Linked DNA regions of Homo sapiens: region 1 is linked to region 2. Evidence: fine-mapped expression QTL. A gene starts in region 2. The other region holds a variant in brackets. All regions are shown on one strand. Distances are from middle to middle.

Evidence for each region.
Region 1: its variant is fine-mapped to the expression of GMDS-DT in spleen (GTEx, PIP above 0.99).

What each region holds. Positions count from the first base shown.
Region 1 is chr6:1,759,778-1,770,354 of GRCh38, forward strand. The region is part of intron 7 of GMDS (GDP-mannose 4,6-dehydratase); the gene reads right to left. It overlaps LOC124901239 (a long non-coding RNA gene), which reads right to left and starts at 5,834. Exons shown (of 2, transcript XR_007059404.1): 1 at 1-5,834. The variant G/A (reference allele first, on the strand shown) is at 4,867.
Region 2 is chr6:2,241,321-2,251,897 of GRCh38, forward strand. It overlaps GMDS-DT (GMDS divergent transcript), which reads left to right and starts at 4,433. Exons shown (of 7, transcript NR_046229.1): 1 at 4,433-4,610; 2 at 7,517-7,606. It overlaps GMDS (GDP-mannose 4,6-dehydratase), which reads right to left and starts at 4,285. Exons shown (of 11, transcript NM_001500.4): 1 at 4,001-4,285. The coding sequence starts at 4,102. RefSeq lists an enhancer at 3,927-4,427 and a silencer at 3,928-4,557.

The DNA.
Region 1 (10,577 bases), 480 kb before region 2:
GGCTCCTTTCTAAAACCTTCCTCCTAATAAGACTGTCCCCACACACTGCTCTTGATGAAGGAGTGAGTCAAGCCAGGTGTATTTAAACCAGGTGATGTGTCCCTGTGCCTACTGCGCCCCAGCCCCCCACCCCCCAACACCCTTCGGTTTCCATGGATGGAGACCTAACATATTCTGGGCCAATGGGAATGTCAAAGACATTTGCAGTAAGAGACCCAGAGGCAGAAACAGCAGGAAAGGGCTGAGCACCCAGGCGTGAGACTGTCACCGGGGCGGAGCCAGCTGGAGAGACTGGGAGGCATGAAGACCTGTGTGGGCAGCAGAGTGGGAAAGGGAGCCCACGAGGAGGGAGGGAGTGAGGGAGATGTGCAGACACAGAGGAAAGCAGATCCTCCTTTCCCATTCCTGCGAGGTGCCCTGAGGCTCCTTACAAAAAATCCCGTTTTCCATGAATTTCTTTGAGTTGGTTTCTGCTCCTTTAGCAAACAAGTTTGGATAAAGAGCAAATAGGACTTCTGGACCACGAGTATATGGGACCAGTTGTGTATCAGCTCTGTATTCAGTGGTAAGAAGGGAGCTCCAGGGGGGATAAGTCACCACCTGTTGACCTCAGTATCCAGTGGGGAAGATGGCCACTTGCCCAGCCAGCCACTAAAATGATGGGAGAGGGGCCAGTGTGAAAGGAGCTGTGGGAACACAGAGGAGACAACCCAGTACACCAGAGGAGGAGGAGTACTCAGGGTCCTCATGAGGGTGTCATCAACCCATGGCCCCCGCAGTCCCCACCGCCGAGGACCGCCCACCCTTGAGCGCCTCTAAAGATGGCAGGCTGGGACATGCACCGTCTTTGTAACTGGGAACCTAGTGTCCTATGCAACTTGTTGGTTAAAACTCATTTCAAATGTGTTTCCCCAGTGTCTTCATTCACAAAAATCTAGATGTCAAGTTAAAAGTCACTCTTCCACTCAGTACTCTGAAAAACATGCTGAATATAATTAGATTTAATCATTCTTCTTTTAATTTTTGTTTGCTAATCTGAGAATGTCCCACTATGAGGAGTATCTGAGCTTTGTTCTTTCGGGTGGTCCAATTGCTCTTACTAACTTGACCTCACCCGGGACTGGGATGGTCTGTTGGCATAATGATTTCCCAGATGCTGACTCTGCAATGTCCTGGATCAACACAGATGAAAAGGGAAGCCAGTTGTATTTAAGAAAACAATGATTGTAACTGTAACATTTGAGTGTAGTGATAAAGGAGGAAAGAAATTCTACTACATACATGCAAAGAGTCATCTAGAGAAACCTCCCCTTCCATGGAAGGGCCTGTCCACATGACTGAAAATTAAACAAAAGGCCCCCTGTGTTCTCCAAGATTCAGAATAAAAATCAAGAGCGTACCTTGAAGTTCAATTATTTTAAAAACACATTATAGATGATCAAGGGAGTTTTTAAAAAATTAAGTCTACTTAATTCTAGATGAAATCTGGAAAAACAAGTAGAAAAAGCCTACAATGAATTAACACTTTTAAAGTATTTAACTTATCGAGTATTTGAAAACTCTAAAATATCCAAAAGATAATTTAAAAAATCTGTGAGAAACTTAAATTATCAGGTACTGAGAATGAACATTTATTTTTTGGTGACTAAAATTCTCAGTAGTCTGACAAGTTATCAACGGCTGCTCAAGACTGTTAACAAGAAAGCCTGTCTAATACTATACAGCACCATAAGTAATGTCATTTACGCCAGTGCTAAAGGTCGAGTTCTGAGGAGCAAGCTTTTCTGTTAATATAACACAGCATTTTTCACATGCATTTCATGTGAATGAACAATGTCTTCATTGTTTGCCTGAACACTAATTTAATGTTGTATTTTTTTTGCTTGTGTCAATGAGTGTCAAAATATTGTTCTTTTAATACATGAAAGTATTTGCATAGAGCTTTATTACTGATCTTCAGATGTTAGCCAGAGGCAAAATAAAACAGAGACGCTCCAGTTGGGAAATCTCGCTCACAATGAAAAGCAAGAGTCCTTAACATATTCTGCTCTCCTGCCAATTTTTCTTCCAAGTACACAATGATTTATTTACTCCATAATTGGTGAAATTAAAAGCAACACTGGAGACGAAAAAAAAACTATAGGAAACCCTTTCCCTAAAAATGAAACAGAGACTTTGCAAGGAGGAATACAAAAACTCTAAGAGGAAGTACTAAGATGTAAGATCTTAACGTGAATTAAAGGACAATCTGATATAAACCTGATTACAGAAAAAGCCGAGAAGCACAGTCTGTTTCAACCATGAAGTGAGAAACACAGAGGCAATTTTTATTAAGTTATGCCTTTCAGCATCATCTCATCATTAAATGCTCAATTGCTTATAACCGTCTGCATTTATTAAGAAAAATAAAGCCACCACATTTTCTGCCTCCACAAAGTTGAAGAGTCCATAACCAGGTATCGGATGTGGTTTTCAATTCTGTTTTTTCCCTCCCTAACACTAATTATCCTGCCATTTGGTACTGCCAAAAAAGACAAAATGCCCTTTCAGAGAGGCATGGGCTCCTGCTGACGGGTTACTCACGACGAAACTTCAGGGCTGTACCCGGGTTGTGGTCAGGAGTGAGCAGTCCCAGAGCTGGCTGCCAGGGCAGGCTGGTAAAGGCCATGCTCGCACGGCGAGCAACCCGACCAGCCTTTCAAGTCAAGTGTTGGCTTGTAGACATATAAGTTAATCAGCTATGAAATAACCACCACAATGTACTTATTGATCACACAGGGCTTATGATGAAACTCTTGGCCCAGGGAAGATTTGTGCTTCTTTCTTTCAGCCTCCAACCTAAGAGAAAGAGCACTTTGAGGTGGTGTTTACGAAAAGGCAGATGTTAACTTCATGATTTCAACCTTCCCTTCCTGGGGAGGATGAGAAACACGCTGGGTCTTCAAAATGAAGCCCGACACATTCGCGTCCCTGTTCATTTTTTACAGAACTTGACATTTTCAGTGTATTGTGGTTATTATTAAGGAAGAGTATTTAGAAAGTTTCAAACTGATAAATTTTAAATGTGTTACCCTAATTTCTTTGCTTCGAGACATTAGGGAATGCTGATCATTTTGTTTATAAATCAATAATATCAAAGAATAGCAATTGAATGTTTGCTCCAAAAATCAAAACCATGTTTTAGAAAGCTGGTAGTTTTAAAGTGCTAGTGTATGTACAAGCAGAATGTTTAGTGTACTTTTACTGCTCTTGAAAATGAGCTGGTAAATACATGTGGTAATTATACTTTCTGCTCAATCTTCGGTTCCCATTTCTACCAAATTCTTTCTAAGATCGCAAAGGGAAAGACAAGGTGGGTGAGGCTGACTGGTGCTGTGGACACGTGCGAAGATGCTGGCAGATGTGGGCCACGGGCCATCCAGAAACGTGAAAAGAAACCAGTGTCTTTTCCCACTAGGTCAGCCCCATTGCTCTGAGCTGTCTTCTAATGTGCATCTTCTTAACCAAAAATGAAAAAGAACAAATTCAGTTCTGATTTCAGTGAGAGGACTATGCAAAGGGGCTGAAGAACCAGTGACTTAGGTCTTCAAGGGAAGCATTCAGTAAGTCAATTCTCCAGGGGCATGGAGATAAAACCCCAGCGTCTCCCCAAGAGTAAACCTACTGGCAAGTGATAAATCCCCCACTTCCAGGGCGCTGCCCTTACTGTCTGGCGAGGCCACAGACTGCAGGTGGACAGACATTAAAAACCATGGTCAGTGTGAGAATGAACATGATGGATGGTATGACAATTATGCAACTGCTCCTTCCTCTTTTCTTTCACATAGATTGCCCTGTGTGTGACTGACTCCAGAATAAACAGATTTTTTAAAGATCTAGTATTTCTAACAGTAAAATGGATTTCCGGTTTGCCCAGGGGGAACAATGGGACATCCCAGTCATCATGGTGGCATGAAATCTAGAAAGCGGAAGAACCAGTTTCTCCATTGGTACGAATCTGTCTCCCACTCAGTAGCTCAGTTTGAAACTTTGCTAGGACCACTAGTGAAAGTAGTGAACATCCGCTCCTGAGAGTGAAGAGTGCTCCCTGTCTCCACACTGGGGGCACAGGTGGAGGGCTCCCTTGGAGGGAGCAGTGCCATTTGCTGAAGCTGCGATCCACTGGAGCTGAGGCACCCCCTCTTGGCAGGCACCCCTGCTAGTTTGGAGGGTCTGCAGGGGAAAGACAGAGCGGGCATTGTAGGCCTGCCTGCTGCTTGTCCGGTACATCTCCTCGTAGTGCTACTGAGGCTGGGGGTTAAGAGTGAAGGAGCGAAGAAAAAAAAAAGCTGTTTGTTTGAAATGATTTTGTTCCCAGCAGTAAAAACAGTGCTGGTAACTGAGAAGGCCTTTCTGTGATCACAAATGTACATTCATACAAGATGGGAGACAACTATTTAAAGCTGGGAATGTGCTGTGAGGGTGAATACGAAAACATGCACTCAAAACGGAGGCCCGTGTGTGGGATGTGAGAGCCGAGAGGTTCACAGAGGCAAGAGATGGAGGCTTTATGTGTTTCTTCATCTTTCCAAATGAATTATTTTTACAGGAAAATACTCGATGATAAAGGATAGTCTTAATATCATGTAGTGAAAAGAACTTGGACTGAAGTCCTAAAACGCTGGGCCCTGTCTGGAATAGGCTTGTCACTTTAGACAACTTACTCATTTCACCCTTGATTTTCTTACACAGGTTATAGGGTTTTAGGTATCCCATCAGATAATATGTTAAAAGCACTCTGTGATCTACAAAATGTTATTGCTGTTATAAATGATAATATTATTGGAGAAAATCCTGGGTTAATGCCTAAGAGATCATCACCGCTCC[G/A]TAACGATCGTCAAGATATGATGTGATAATTCCATGGGGCTGTTATCATACCAAACATAAAAACGCTGCATTTTTCAGAGCATGAATTCTTTTTGAAAGATGAGTTTTAGAACTGAATCTGGGGTTTCAACATTTCCGTTCTAAAGAATTTCTGATTCCTTGCCCAAAATCGTTTGGTTATATTTAAGTTCTGAAAGAACACAAAAATCCTGGCAATTTATATGTTTGTCTCAACATGCGGGTTTTTGCAATTTCAAGAAAATAAATTTGTATTATATAGGTAGATAGTTCAGAGGAGCTGTCTTTTTTTCTGAGTAGGGAGCTTCATGAATTATTGTTAAATAGTGTTCCTTTAATAGTGTTGCTAAATAGTAAACAGCTGTGGGCACATTTTTTTCCCCCCAGTGTGACTTCTCAATGAGGAAGAAACCTTAACTGACAGGAGTGATCAGAAGATTTAAACAATTTAAATCTTTTAAAAAACAAAACTAAACCAAAAAGAAAAAAAAAATTTACAACAGATCAGTTAACTGGAGATTGTGCTTTTTGGAACCGGATTCTAACTTAAGCATGGTAGCAATTCTAATGCTATCTTTTATTCAACACCATTTTCCTAATTATCTTGGTCTAAATGTTTCCAAACTTTGTTGTTTATTTTGGCATAAAGAGTTCCCAAGGCCACCGCCTCTTTTCCTAGAGCTGGGGATGGTGTTAACAAGAAGGTGAGATGGGAACACAACCCATTAACAAGCACTGAGAAGGCTGTGGTCTGAAAAACCCCTCGAGCAGATAAGAAGGCGCTAGGCAAGAGTGAGCCCAGGAAGAGAGCAAGGCAGAGCCCCCACAAAAATATTCATTCGCATTGTTTCAGTGAAGATAATCAGAAGGATTTCCCTCAGGTTTCTTATAAATAACATTCATTTCATTGTCTAATTTTACAGATGGAGAAACTGAGACATGCTTGGAGGACTGACCTGCAACAGGGTCACGCGGCGGCTGAGCAGGAACAGAAGGCAAATTTCCTGGTCCCTGGGCCAGTTTTCCACCCAATCTACCCCGTCTAAATGAAACGGCAGAAGCTTAGTTTTGATAAGCAGTTCCATGAAAACATGTCCTGTGCCAGATTCTCGCTGGTGCCCGAGACACTCCCCGATGGAGGGTTAGGGCTCGGAGCCCTTTAACTCCTTCGGCACAGTGGAGAAAGGTTTAGGAAATAGCAGAACAAACGCAAAGGCCTTGAGAAGGCCCTTGCGAGACTCAGCCCAGGACTCTTCTCTCTGTCCTATCTTCAGCCCTAAAGCAAAGGGCTGAGGATGTAAGAAGGCTTTCACCTGGGTCCTTCGAAACATGCCTGGTGCCTTTATTAACTCCTCTACTTCAGAAATCAGCTGCAAACGTCCTCTCTCCCAGTGGGCAGAGCGGCTGCACTATATGAAAACGACACATGTGAAATGGAGGGTGGGTATGTGAAGCTCAGGATGATTCATGGATTCGCTGCCCGTCTGTTTAAATGTAATACTCTTTCAGTGCATCAAGATACCTGATGCCATGATTAATTTTTGTGTGTGGCACAGAAGCAAGGAGAAGTTAGCTAATTTAAGCTGATGTGCATTGAGTCACTGGAAATTGGACAGGAGCAAAGACCACAGAACTTTCGAGGCAGCAGATTCATTTGGGCTTCAGGAAACGCGGTGCATGAGCTGTTTCAGGTGCTGGGGAAAGGCTCTGCGTTAGAACCCACACCTTCCGTCTCCCGGGCCAGGTCTCTTTGTAGGCCACCACGGAGAGAGAAAAGCATCTTGAGAATCCTAATGGGAACCAATGAAGAAATGAGTATCATATTTATATATCTGCTATAACTCACTTTCTAATGAACAAAGTCGCTTACTTTGAAAAGTGATTTCTCTCTTGTGTATGGCTCGGGAGGAGGGTCTAAGGTGGGCCTCGCTACTCCAGTGCCTCCGGAGCCCAGGGAAGCTCACCTCAGGCAGCCTGCAGAGGCTCTCCCCTTCTAGAAGGCCCAGCAAGCGCCCCGTTTCCCACAGACGGTTCCCACCTGGGGATGTTGAACCAGTCTCACCAGATCTGCTTACACGGAGGAGCTGCACATCGAACATGCTAAAAACTGCGTTATGTTTTTTAAAAACCCAACAAACTCTAAAATGTTAGCTGTGGGCTGAAACACTGACTGGACTAAACAAAGCCTGGCAATGGGCCAGATCTGGTCAGCTAGGTCTCCCAGCTCAGCAATCTGGCTTAAAGGAGCACCGGGTAAGGGTTCTTTATTTCCTGCTGAATCTGACTTAAGTGTAAAATCGAGCAGGGATCCCCAAACCTTCCTCTCACACCACAGCTGTAGGGCACACTGAACTTTATTCTGTTCAGTAGAAAATGAAATGAACAAACTATAAAATGTAGCTCCTTAGATTTGTTTATAATACAGATTCAATATTTAATAATACTTTTGTTTTCCTAGTTTTCTGAAATTCTTCATATACGAAATGTAAACCACAAAGGGAATATGATTTTAAAACCGGAAACATATTTTCCACCCACCACCCCCCCAAATTTCATTAAACGCATAAAAGAAAATATCCTTTGTAAAATGGCTAATTACAAAATAATTAGTCACAGAGGTCCTGTATAACAGAAACGACAACAACTCTTAAGTTTCAGTCATCAAGAATCAAGGAACTTATTATTTGGGAAATAAAAATACCAGTTCACCTTAAAGTAAATTTTGGGTTAAAAGGAAAAAAAGATGGCCAAGCAAAGTCAAGTTATTACTTCAACCTTATGCCCTGTCCATCTTTTCAAATGTACTTCAGATAAAAACAAGCAACAAGAGCAGAATGTGCTATTGGTGGCCCTCCCTTGAATTCTTCTCTGAGCTGCCACCACTCCCGAGTCTCCCAGACTGACCTCTGAGTCAAGCCAGATGGGACTGAGAGAGATGTTAAGCAAGTGCTGAAAAGGTGACTTGAGTCTCTGGCAGCCGAGTCTGGAGCGAGTTTCTCTGCAAATTCTCTGGGGGTTGTTGCTTTCCAATTTCTCAGGAATGTTTAATTCTCCTCATCCCTTCACTGAATCTCTCTCTGGAGAGGTCAGGGAAGCCTGTGACATCCCCGGAGGGCACTGCCTAACTAAATTAGCATGAGATAACTTTGGACTCTCTCCCAAACATGAAAATACAAGGGAGAGAGTTTCATTAAAAACAGAATACTAGGTGATCCCAGTTAATCCCGGCTCTAAGCTGCTGTAGAATTGCTCAGTGTTTACATTTTGACTCTCTTCTCGGTGACAGTTCACCGACTATACTGCCAGCTATGTTATGCATACAGCTTGCCCTCAGCTGACCAAACCCTAGTTTCATAATAAAGGTAAAAAGTGGGTCTGGTGGTGTTAAAATAGGTATTTAGCCTGTATATGTTACTATATGAAGCAGAAGATCCAGAGGTAAAAATAAACATTTCAGTACTGAGGCCTTTAAATATCTTTTAAATCAGGAAACAGGAAACCTTAATAGGTAACATGAGTCATTAACCATATGAATGTGTGTAAACAGGGGAATATCTAATGTCACTTCAGTAAAGCATACAATGTCATAGAGACATGCTTTCTATTATATCCACAAATATTTGAAAGAATACATTGTAAATATTTAGAACGACAGTATAATCAATAGGATATGTTCAAAAAGTGCAAGGATGATGATTTCAGCATTTGCTTCTAAAAATTTAATTGGAAGAACAGCTCCAAAAAAGGGATCAATATTGCCAGCTACTACCAATATATGACAGATAAGATACTGAAGAATTCAAACTTGGGTACATACCTTAGAACTCCTGCTTCAACCAAGGAGGTACTACGTTTACTCATTCCTTCATGAATAAATGTTTCTTGTTAGTCACTGTCACATAATATACAGGTTGAGTACCCCAATCCAAAAATCTGAAATCTGAAATGTTCCAAAATCTGAACTTTTTGAGTGCTGACTTAACGTCCAAAGGACATGCTCATTGGAGCATTTCTGTTTTTGGATTTGGGATGTTCGACCAGTAAGTATAATGCAGATACTCCAAAACCCAAAACATTTCTGTTCCCAAGCATTTCAGATAAGGAATACTCAATCTATATATTTTGCTTTGATTTAAACATGTTTTTGTATCTTTTGAATATTCATAATTTGTAAAAACTGGCACTTCACAACTCCTATTTAACTACTGACATTTTACAGACTAAAAGAGTTATGCTTATATTTCTCATTTTTTGTGTGCTTATTCATTTTGAGTTCCTTTTAATATTCCTTCAATATTGTAAGAGATAAAAGATACAGAATAATATGCCCAGGAGAGGAAATAACAGCTTACTCTGTCTGATTATACTATATTCTACAGAGAGAAAAGTACTCAGTGATAAAAAATTATTCACTAGTATATTATAATTTAAGTTAGGTTATCTACTGATGTAATTCGTTCCTAGAAAAGTCCTTTATTTTGACTTGGTGATTCTGTGTGATCGACTTTCACTCAAGCTTCACGACAATAACTGACACTAATAGAACTGGGTTTACGGAGATAAAGAGGAAGCGGATCCTTCTCCCAGAAGCAACCAGTGTAACAGAAGGTATGCAGTCTAACTTGTGAGTAAACAGAATTCTGGAATGTCCAATACTGGGGTAACAAATTCTCTCAAAGCTGGAGGAAATAAAGAAAATGACACTTTAACCTGTGTCAAGCTACTTCTCAGCTAAAATCCAAGTTATATTCACACTGAAGCTATGAAAACACAAACAACCCAGGAAGCACAGGGATGGAATTGATTGGCATTCTGTAATTCCCTGCCTTCCCTTTTGCTAACCCCTCATGGGCATTTTCAAGGGGACTGGCAGGACTCAGTGAAATCCTCAGCCACTTAACGAGGCTATTAATTGGCCAGGAGGAAGACTGAAGCCCAAGCTTCGACCTCAATAGTTTAAAGCTCTAACAAACCAACATCAATTAGCACAGACACAAAATTTTGATATCCTTTAGGTAACACAGAGTTTAAATGTTTTTTATTTTTTATTTTTTTTTTTGAGACGGAGTCTTGCACTGTCACCCAGGCTGGAGTGCAGTGGCGTGATCTCCACAACCAAAAAATGCGTGATCTCTGCTCACTGCAACCTCCACCTCCCAGGTTCAAGTGATTCTCGTGCCTCAGCCTTCCAAGTAGCTGGGATTATGGGCGTGGACCACCAGGCCTGGCTAATTTTTGTATTTTTAGAGGAGATGGGGTTTTGCCATATTGGCCAGGCTGGTCCCAAACTCCTGACTCTAAGTGACCACCCGCCTCGGCCTCCCCGAGTGCTGGGATTACAGGTGTGAGCCACCGCACCCAGCCTAAATGTAACTTTCTAATGATTGATATCTTTTGTTATGAATGCTAACTAAAATCTTACAACATTTTGGGGTTCTCTGTTTAATTTTTAAAAGCACTTATTATTAACTTTACTTGAGTCATGGACTCCTTTGAGAATCTGATGAAAAATGAGGATATCTTCTTCCCTGAGAACTGCACACATGTGTGAGCCAACACACGAACACATTTTTACCTACGACTTGAGGAAATTCACAGACAGTTTTAGACCCTAGGTTAGGAAATTTGGATTTTCAGAGAGAAAGCCACAATTTCCAGTGATCTTTCACTCACTGATGCTTCAATTTTGCATG
Region 2 (10,577 bases):
AGACTTTGAACCGTTAAGTTGGTGCTGGAACAAGTTAAGAATTTTAGGGACTATTGGAATTGTATTTTGCATGAGAAAGATGATTGTATTTTGCATGTGAGAAGGATGAGATCTGGGGGGTCAGGGATGGAATGCCATGGTTTGGATCTTTGACCCCTCCAAATCTCACACTGAAATTTAATCCCCAAGGTTGGAGGTGGGAACTAATAGGAGGTGTTTTGGTCATGGAAGCAGATCCCTCATGAATGCTTGGTGCCATCCTCACAGTAATGAGTGACTCCTCACTCTATTAGCTCCCGCTAGAGCCGGTTGTTAAAAAGAGCCTGGCACCCCACACCCCACCCCACCTCTTGCTTCCTCTCTCACCATGTAATCTCTGCATACACTAGCTCCATGAGTGGAAGCCTAAAGCTTTCAGCAGAAGCAGATGCTGGTGCCATGCTTCTTGTACAGCCTTCAGAACCATGAACCAAATAAACCTCTTTTCTTTATAAATTACCCAGCCTCAGGTATTCCTTTATAGCAACACAAACAGATGAAGACAACTTTCATATCTTTATATCTGCAGCAGCACCAAAACAAGCCTTGGACACTGCAGACATGCAGTGAAGATGTGTTCTGCTAATGGAAAAAGTAAGTCAACAGTTTTGAAACCCCACTAGATGAAGGCATGTGGGAGGTAACAGGCTGAAAATGAGATTTCTATCTTAAAGTAGTTCATAATCTCAAGACAAAAGATATGAAATTACTTATACAATCAACAGGGACTGCATACATGTAAATACAGAGGAAGTTCCTGGAATGGCTGCATTTATCAGGATTAGGCTGAGAACACTGAGACTCACCTTAAAAGGAATAAGAATTGTGAGGCCATTCAGCCACAAATAATTACTCCAAAGAGGTACAAGGCAACAGTATTCAAAAAACAGCAAGAACATCTCCAAGAGTGCAGTAAAGAACAGCATCATTAGCCAATGGGGGTGAGCTTTTAAGAGTGGCTGGCAGAGGGCCTGGAGACAGCAATGCAAAGCCAGAGCCTGAGCTTCTTTAAAGCCTATTTAATAAGGTTCCCACTTTGGAAAAGGAGTGTGTCAAGAACCGATGGGAGGGGAAGGCTAGAATAAGAAGCCTGACAATACGTACTAGAGATACACAGCAGACAGGACACCCTGGCTGTCCGCACTATTCTCAAGCGGGAATTTGGGACAACCCATTTAAGAGCCCATCTTGGCACAAATGCCATGATAGCCCCAAGTGCCAGAGCAGTGGCATTTGAATCTGAAATCTCTTCTTAGAGTAAGACTATTTATTTCTCTCTGTCTCATAAGGCTCACCACAGTCTGTATAACAAAATGACTTACAGCAACTGCTGAGATCTGGGTTCAGATCTCAGTTCTGACACTCATTAGATGTACGACCTCAGGGAACATATTTAACCTTACTTAGCCAGGGATAAATGGGGATACTTATTATACCTGTCTCTTAGGTAGGGATATACAAAATGCTTAGCAGAGTGAATAGCTCAGTAAGTTCTCAGCCAATATTATTAAGAAAACATACAATAAGGTATGGATTTTCAGACCCCTTGCATTAACACCACAGTGCTCCAGAGATCCTTGATACTCAAGTTGGGAGTCACTGTCCTGGAATACAAATAAAAAACATAAAAGAGCAGTAAATTCCATCTGCAAGTGTTTATGTGGTAGCTACAGAATTCAGCACTATGCTAGGGGTACAGAAGCCAATGCAACACCAAATGAGGAGACAATGCAGAGGGCAGATGCCGGAGGGAAGAAAGAAACACTGGGGCAGAGATTCAACCCAACCTGAAAGCCATGCAGGTGTTTTAAGTTGGAAATGAAATGAGGAACCAAAAAATTCCAGTCAGGGAGTGGTCTGCTGAGTGTGGTGCTTCAGGTAGACTCCCATGACAGGCTGCAGGACAAACTAGAGTGGGGGCCCACTTCCATACCTTCCTGGCCACTCAGTTCCAGCCAAATGACTGCTCTTAAAAGTCAAAATTAGGTTCCATTTCTAATCTGCACTGATTCATACTGCTGGTCGTGTAAATTGGTATAGGCCACACCAACACAGCACATTAGTTAAGATGTTAATCTTAACTAATTTCCGGACAATACTAAAATAAAATCTCTACTTTCCAGAGATTAGGTAAACTTGGTAAACATTTGAGCTTCAGGTCCAGTCTGACAAAATGGAAAAAAGGGAATCATCTGCAGAAAGGTCCCAGCATTAGAAAACAAAGAGAAGGGGGAGGACAGTATGTAGGCCCTGACCTGTCTTACTGCCTCAATTCAAGGATTCAATTTCTCAACCTCAGATCCTTGCCCTCTTACTAGTTTTCAAACTCAGATCCACCTCTTACTAGTTTTCAAACTCTTGTCTATTATGATTACCTTAAGCAAAGCAAGATGCATGAATAACCAGCAGTAAATCAGGTATTCAATACTTGAAATTGTGTAATATTCTGTGACTGTGCATCTGGCCAATTTCAACTTCTCCTTCTTTTTTTTTTTTTTTTTTTTTTTTTTTTTTTTTGAGGCAGGATCTCACTCTCTTGCCCCAGGCTGGAGTACAGTGGTACCATCATTGCTCACTGCAGCAGCCTCAGACTCCCGGACTCAAGTGATCCTCCTGCCTCAGCCTCCTGAGTAGCTAGCACTACAGGTGAGCACCAACATGCCTGCCTCATTTTTTAAATTTTTTTGTAGAGACAACGTCTCAATATGTTGCCCAGGCTGGTCTCAAACTCCTGGCCTCACCTCGAGCAATCCTTCCACCTCTGCACACCGAAGTGCTGAGATTTCAAGTATGAGCCGCTGCCTCCTGCCCACTTAGCCCTTTCTAACACTAGAGAACTTTGAGAGTGGTTTCAATACCAACTGGACACTTCCCAGCGGTTTAACCTCAGGCAAATCAAACTCCCATGCCTCAGTTTCCACATATATAGAGATAATAAAAGTACCTCCTCAAAGAGTTTGTTATGAGAACTAAATGAGTTAATGTTAGGCAAGCGACTGGAACATGATAGACACAATATGTATTAGCCATTATCACCTTTATCTCAGTGTTATATTGGCCACCACCCAGAGATACCCAGGAGCACACACATCACATTCTTTCTACAGCAATATGTGGGCACGATTACTTCATGACCACTGAATCTAAAACAGCACAGCTTGGTAAGACACAGCGGTCGGATCCCACCTACTGCAACACCTCTAAGAGGCGACCCTCACAAACCAGCCATGCTTAGCCTGAGACATTCCGAAGACCTCCTCTTGATTACCTTACTCGACGAACTTATTCCTTTGAAAATGGAACTAGCCGCACTTTTGGACCAGTGTGCCTCGGATACACTTCCAAATGTGTCAACCTGAATCTCAGAAGTTGGCGTGATTTTAAAAAGTTTTTTAAGTTCTTTTTCCTAAACATGTCCTAGTAGGTGACTCCACAGCATTACTTTCTTTCATGTTCTCTTTTCTATCTGGAAATCCGGTGATAGGGGACGAAACCAGCAAAGCACCCTTTTTCTTGCTTCCCAAACGTTAGCAGGTAAGCGCCCCTTGAGCCGAGACACATCAAGAAGACCTCACCCGCAAGTTCATTGATCACCGGTTCTTTTCCCTTTCCGGCACTAGGAGCTGCGAAGCACGACATGGGCTTGGAGGAAGAGACGCTGCGGTCACCTGAGGGGCAGGTGAGAGCGGGCGGTCCTGCCCGGGTGTGAGCGCGACATCCCGCGCGGCACACACGCTCACAGCCCCCAGAGAAAGACCAGAGGCGCTCGATGTATCCCGCACACCCCACACGCAACACACTAACTGCACCGTACCTTCCGTCCCACCTCCCGGCAGCAGACCCCTTCCGGGACGCCGAGAGGGCTGTTCCTGGAGAGACCGCAGCCCACGAGTAGCGGCGCGTAGGGAGAGCACGCGTGCCCAGGCTGCCTCGGCCGGCGCGCCCCCGCCCCCGCACTCACCTGGCCTGTGATACCGGTGATGAGCGCCACGTTCCTGGGCTTGCCCATCTCGCCGTCCCCGGAGCCCCGGGCGCTGGGGCAGCGTGCCGGTGCGTGTGCCATGTCCCGCGGCGGGCGTGCGGTCGGCGGCAGGGCGGAGCGCGGCAGAGGGCAGGCGCGGTGCCGGCAGGAACGCGGGGGTGTGCAGCACGAAGCGCCTCTCCAGGCTGCGGGCAGGGAGGGAGAGCGCACCGCGCGACCGGCCGCCACAGTCTGACAGGGGCGCACGGGAGGCCGTGCAGGGAGGGCCGGGGGCGGGCCGAGCCGGCCAAGGCGGGCCCGACGGGCCAAGCAGCGGGGCTGCGGCCTGACTGGCGCAGCGTCATTCGCGTCAGCCGGCGACGCTGTAGCAGGCCCCGCCCCTCCGCCGACGGCCACCGCGCGGGAGGGGCGGGGCCTGCCGCCGCCACCGCCTCAGGGAAGAGGAAGGAGGCCGCGGCTTCGCGTCCCGCCTCTCGCCTGGCTGGCCGTGGGGGGCCTGGACGCAGTGGCCTCCCGAATCTCCCAGGACCCTAATATCGCCCGAGGATGCTGGGAGGAACGCTGAGCCGACCTCTCCGTTAGGCTGAAGGTCTGAATTTTCAAACCCAGGGGTCACAGGGCCGGGGTCATGGACTTTGATAAATAATTCCTGGAAACCTGTTGCAGTGCCCTTTGAGAAGCCCGGTTTATGGTACCTGAAGGGCAGTAGCGTACAAGGCCCGTAAACGGGGGTCACAGATGTGGGAGTGACTAACTAGGCTGGCTCTCGCTCTTCTGGCCTTTCCTGAGGCTCGGAACCAGTAACGAGGTTCCAAATAGCTGAATTCAAAGTTTTCTCTTCTGAGGACTGCCAGTGCACAAGAAAGTCCCTAGCCCCACCCGTATGCGGCATAAGGAAATGTTGAAAAGACTGCCCGGGTCAATAAACCTGGACGTGGCAGATTTCAAAGAAAGTAATTCAAACACAGGTGGGGTCCCGGCTTACATCTGTTGGATTTGGCTGCCATTTGGCAGCTGCTCGTTGGACAGGGAGAGGAGAGGAGGTGACTCAGAGCCGGGAGGGCAGCAGGTGTGTGTGCCTAAGCAGTTGGCTGCAATCCAGGACACAGACGGAAACTTCCCGGTCTCCGTTGCTCTGCTTCTCTGTCCACATTCCTCTCCCTAATCGATAACTTCAGATCATCATTTCAAATCACAGAGTTACTAGGGCTGTGCCCAATATAACGTGCAAGAGTATGTATAGCAGACCTGGAACCCCAAAATCAGAAAAGCTCAGGATTACATTTAAAACCTCCCTCTCGCGCTCCTCGAGGTCCGTTAGGAATATTTCTTAGCTATAGATAGACTGGTCTGGTTTCACACCTGGCCTCTCCTCTGCGTTCTATGAGGAGAATGGCTCAACAAACATCTGATGGTGCCTCTGAGTGATGAAGAGACCCTGAAGCTGAGGAGAGGGAACACTTCCATTGAGAGGAACATGCTATAAGCTAGAAATGTCTGTGAAATATACGGGAATATGCTAAAACTATACTCATTTTCATGTAAATACGCTTTAAATTAATGCATGAGCCAATTATTTAACATTTTCCTTAAAAAAATCACTGAGCAAGCCGGGCGCAGTGGCTCACGCCTGTAATCCCAGCACTTTGGGAAGCTGCGGCAGGTGGATCACCTGAGGTCAGGAGTTCAAGACCAGCCTGGCCAACACGGTGAAAACCCGTCTCTACTAAAAATACAAAAAATTAGCCAGGCGTGGTGGTGGGCACCTGTAATCCCAGCTACTCTGGAGGCTGAGGCAGAAGAATCGCTTGAACCCGGGAGGAGGAGGTTGCAGTGAGCCGAGATCTTGCCATTGCGTTCCAGCCTGGGCAAGAAGAGCAAAACTCCATCTCAAAAAAAAAAAAAAAAAATCACTGAGCAAAACTGATACTTATGGGAGATATGACACATTTATCCTGTAGTTTTGAGACCTCCTATCACACAAACACTGGAAGTTGACACCAGTCAATTTCCTGTCACACCACCAAACACCTGCCCTAGAAGTGTGTGACAGTAGAAGAAAAATGGAAAAAAAATCAACATTATTAGGGCCTGAAAATATTTATAAAATGATGGGAAATGGTAGGTCAGAGGAAGCTTGAAGAATAAAGGCTATTTCTCTAGAGAACTTTTCTGAAGACAGGTGGTAGGTCTGCTACAGCAACGTACCATCCATAGGGTGACAAACGATAGAAATTTATTTCCTCACAGTTCTGGAGACTGGAAGTTTAGGATCAAGGGCTGATTTCTTCTGAGGCCTCTCTCCTTTTCTTGTAGCTGGCTGTCTTCATGTTCACATGGCGTTCTCTCTGTATGTGTGTCTGTGTCCAAACTTCCTGTTCTTATAAGAACACCAGTTACATTTGATTAGGACCCTCTTTAATGACCTTATTTCCAAATACAGTCACATTTTGAGCTACTAAGAGTTAAGACATCAATATATTAATTGGGGGAGGGACAAAATTCAACCCATGATTGACAGCTAGAGGGAAAAAGAGGTTCTTTTTTTTAACTGTTTGTGGGCTCGGAGGGAGGAGGTTGGTAGTGGAGGTTGTTGTCATTTTCCCAGTAGCATTAGGGCAACTTGAACAACGTCAGCACAGGGTCTGGGGCAGCATAAGAAGATTACATTAACTAGAAGTAAAGCGACCAGCGGTAGTGGAAAGCTCTAAGGGTGATGGCTCAGTTGTGTTTTCCTCTAACACAGTTCTCATCCCTGGGTGATTTTGCCCCCAGGGGACATTTGACAATGTCTGGAGGCATTTTTGATTGTCACAAATGGAGTTGTGCTATAGGTATCTAATGAGTAGAGGTTAAGTATTTTGCTCACCATCTGCAGTGCACAGGAAGCTCCCACAACAAAGATTTTTCTAGCCCAAAATGTCAATAGTGCTGAGGCTGAGTAACCCTTCTCCAGGAGGCCAGTGAAAGATGTTAACAAGCGGGTGGTTGAACTGACAGACACTGGCTATACTATACAGTGACTTCATGGTATGTCAGAAGAAGCAAATACATTTGGTAGCTAATTGTTGATGCTGATACCTTTACTCACAAACTTGGCTAATCTCCAGAAACATACTAGCTGCTGAGGGTATAGCAGTAGAGGAGAAATAATCTTCAAGGGGCTATAATCTGAAAGGGATATGATATTGAATCATTTTATGACTTTTCATAACATTTTCATATTTGTTTTAATATGATACAAAATATAGAGAAAAGAGTGAGGCCTCCAACTCCAAGTCCTCTAATTGGATAAAAGTCAATCATTCTGTACAAGACTAAATATGTGGAATAACATTTTTCACTTCTTTCTTTCCCATCTCTTGCCACTGAGTGCATGCCAGTTATTCAAGAACGATTCTCCAGCATTCCCTTTAAAATTCTCTCTCCTCTCCTTTTTTAAACATTTCTTTCCTTTGCTTTTCACATGGAACATTTGCTGATCTTCTTTCTCAGATTGCACAAACCATGCTAATGGCCAGCATGGATGGAGGGAGCGTGTGAGATGTGTGGGGCAGCGTGCTGCATCTCAGCCAACTCCAGGAGGTAAGTGCGTCTGCTGTGGTGAAATCTATATTTGGTCTTCATTTCTGTTTTCCTGGCATATGATTTCTAAAATGCTTAGAATCACCAAAGCGATGTATTTTGTAGGGTAATGAGTGAGTTCACTGTTGGCTGGCAGCCCTTAGGTGGCTTCAGGGTGGAAACTGGTCATTGTAAAGACCAATGCAGGATTAGAGGGCTGGGACTTTCAGCCCCATCCCCTAACCTCCAGGGAGGAGAGAGAAGCTGATGGTTAAGTTGATCACCAACGGCCAACGATTTAATCAATCATGCCGACATAATGAAGCCTCCATAAAAACCCAAAAAGGACTGTGTGCAGAGAGTTCTAGATAGTTGAACACGTGGAGGTACATGGAGGGTGACGCTTCAGGGTGGGCACCAAAGCTCCAAGCTCCTCCTATTCCTTGCCCTGTACATCTCCTCATCTGCATCCTTTGTCATATACTTTGTCATACCAGTAAACTGGTAATCCTGAGTAAGAGATTCCCTGAGTTCCGTGAGCCACTCTTTCAGATTAATAAACCTAAGAAGGGGGTCACGTGAAGCCCACTTTTTGGCCAGTCAGAAGCACAGGTAGAATAACCTGGGGCTTGCAATTGGCATCAGAAGTTGGCGGGGGCACAGTATTGGGGACTGAGCCCTTGACCTGTGGGATCTGATGCTATCTCCAAGGAGACAGTGTCAGAGTTGAATGGAATTGAAGGGCACCCAGCTGGTGTGCCCTATAGAATTGATTGCCTGCTTGTGGGTGGGAAGAAATCCCATGCATACTTGGTCACAGAAGTCTTCTCTGTTGATTGGTGTTTTGTTAGAGCAGGGGAAAAACAATTTGAGTTTGTCCACACTCAGTATGATAATGATCTTTATTTCATAGAGTCAGAAACTGAGGATTGGAAACATTAATAAACTCGCCCAAGGCCACATAGCTAGTGGCTGGTTATGGTAGATATTATGCTCATTCAACTCCCATTCCATACTCTCTTTGGAAAAATTAGAGTGCTCAAAGCCACATGTCCCAGACCATTTTGCATCTCATATATAGGAAGCAAATTGAGCTTTGTCAATTAGATGCGTTCCTGCTCAATCTGGCAGGTGGAAGTGAAACAGAAGCCATCCTTCTGCTTTCTGGTCCAACTGACATGAGGATTAACGGCAGTTAGAGTCCAAGTTTGGGTCTAGTCACCGTTTTCATGGGCATGAGAGCCACTTGGGTTGGGGGAGCAGCATGGCAGCAGGAGTGGTTTTCTGAATTCTGGCCTTCAGCTATGGTGGTAATGTCCTGACATCAACAACTGAAGGCCCTCCGAGTTCTCTTCCTCTGTCTCATAAATATTTTTTTCAACTAATAATTGTAGATTCAAATGTATTTTTAAGAAATACAGTGAGTGACATGGTCATGTCTTCAAATACTATAGAGCAATAGCACAAGCAGCATATTGGCGTTGATAGAATTCACCAATCTCATTCAGATTTCCTCAGTTTTTGTACTCATTTGTGCAAGAGTATGTGTATTTACTTGTGTACCGTTTGGTTTGGTTTGTTTTGCCTGAGACAAGGTCTCACTCTGTCATCCAGACTCACTTGCAGCCTCAACCTCCTGGGCTCAAGCCGTCCTCCTGCCTCAGCCTTCTATATAGCTGGGACCACAGGTACACACCACCATGGCCAGCTAATTTGCTTATTTTTAGTAGAAACGAGGTCTCACTTTTGCCAAGGCTGGTCTTCAGCTCCTGGGCTCAATTGATCCTCCCTCCTTGGCCACCCACAGAGCTGGGATTACAGGTATGAGCCACCATGCCCAGCTATTTTTTTAATTTATTTATTTTGAGTAGAGACAGGAGTCTCACTTTGTTGCCCAGACTGGTCTTGAACTCTTGGGCTCAAGCAATCCTCCTGCCTTGGCCTCTCCCACAGGGCTGGGATTACAGGCATGAGCCACCATGTGTGGCCTACTTCTATACAGTTTTATTGCATGTATATATTCATGCATCCACCACCGCCATCAAGATTCCAAAACCACCAGGACACCTCATGTTACCCCTTTATAACTGCACCACCTCCCTCCCACCCCCATCCCTAATCCTTTGAAAACACAAATCTGTCCTCTATTTTTAAAATTTTGTCATTTCAAAATGTATCATAGGCTGAGTGGAATGGTTCACGCCTGTAATCCCAGCACTTTGGGAGATAAAGTCTGGAGAATTGCTTGAACCCAGGAGTTTGAGACCAGCCTGAGCAATATAGCGAGACCTTAGCTCAACAAAAAATAAAAACTAGCCAGGCAGGGTGGCACGTGCCTCTGGTCCCAGCTACTGGGGATGCTGGGACCTCATTTGACCCCAGGAAATTGAGGCTGCAATGAGCCATGATCGCACCACTGCACTCCAGCCTGAGTGACAGAGCAAGACCTTGTCTCAATTTTTTTTAAGCATTATAAATGAATAATCTTTTGAAATGTGCTTTTGTCATTCAAGTTTTCTGGAGAGTCATCATCCAAGATGTTGTGTGTATGGATAGTTTGTTTATTTATTTAGTTAGTTAGTTATTTTTGAGAGGGTGTCTTGCTCTGTCACCCATGCTTGGAGTGCAGTGGTGCAATCTCGGCTCACTGCAGCCTCTGCCTCCCAGGTTCAAGCGATTGTCCTGCCTCAGCCTCCCAAGTACCTGGGATTGCAGGCACCCTCCACCACACCCAGCTAATTTTTGTATTTTAGTAGAGACAGTGTTTCACCATGTTGGCCAGGCTGGTCTCGAACTCCTGACCTCAAGTGATCTGCCCACCTCTGCCTCCCAAAGTGCTGGGATTACAGGCATAAGCCACTGCACCCGGCCTCATTAATTTTTTTGTTGAGTAGTATTCCATAGTATGGCAGTACAATCGCTGGTTTAACTATTCACTTACTGAAGGATATCTCAGCTGTTTCCAGTTTGGGACCACTACAAATAAAGCCGC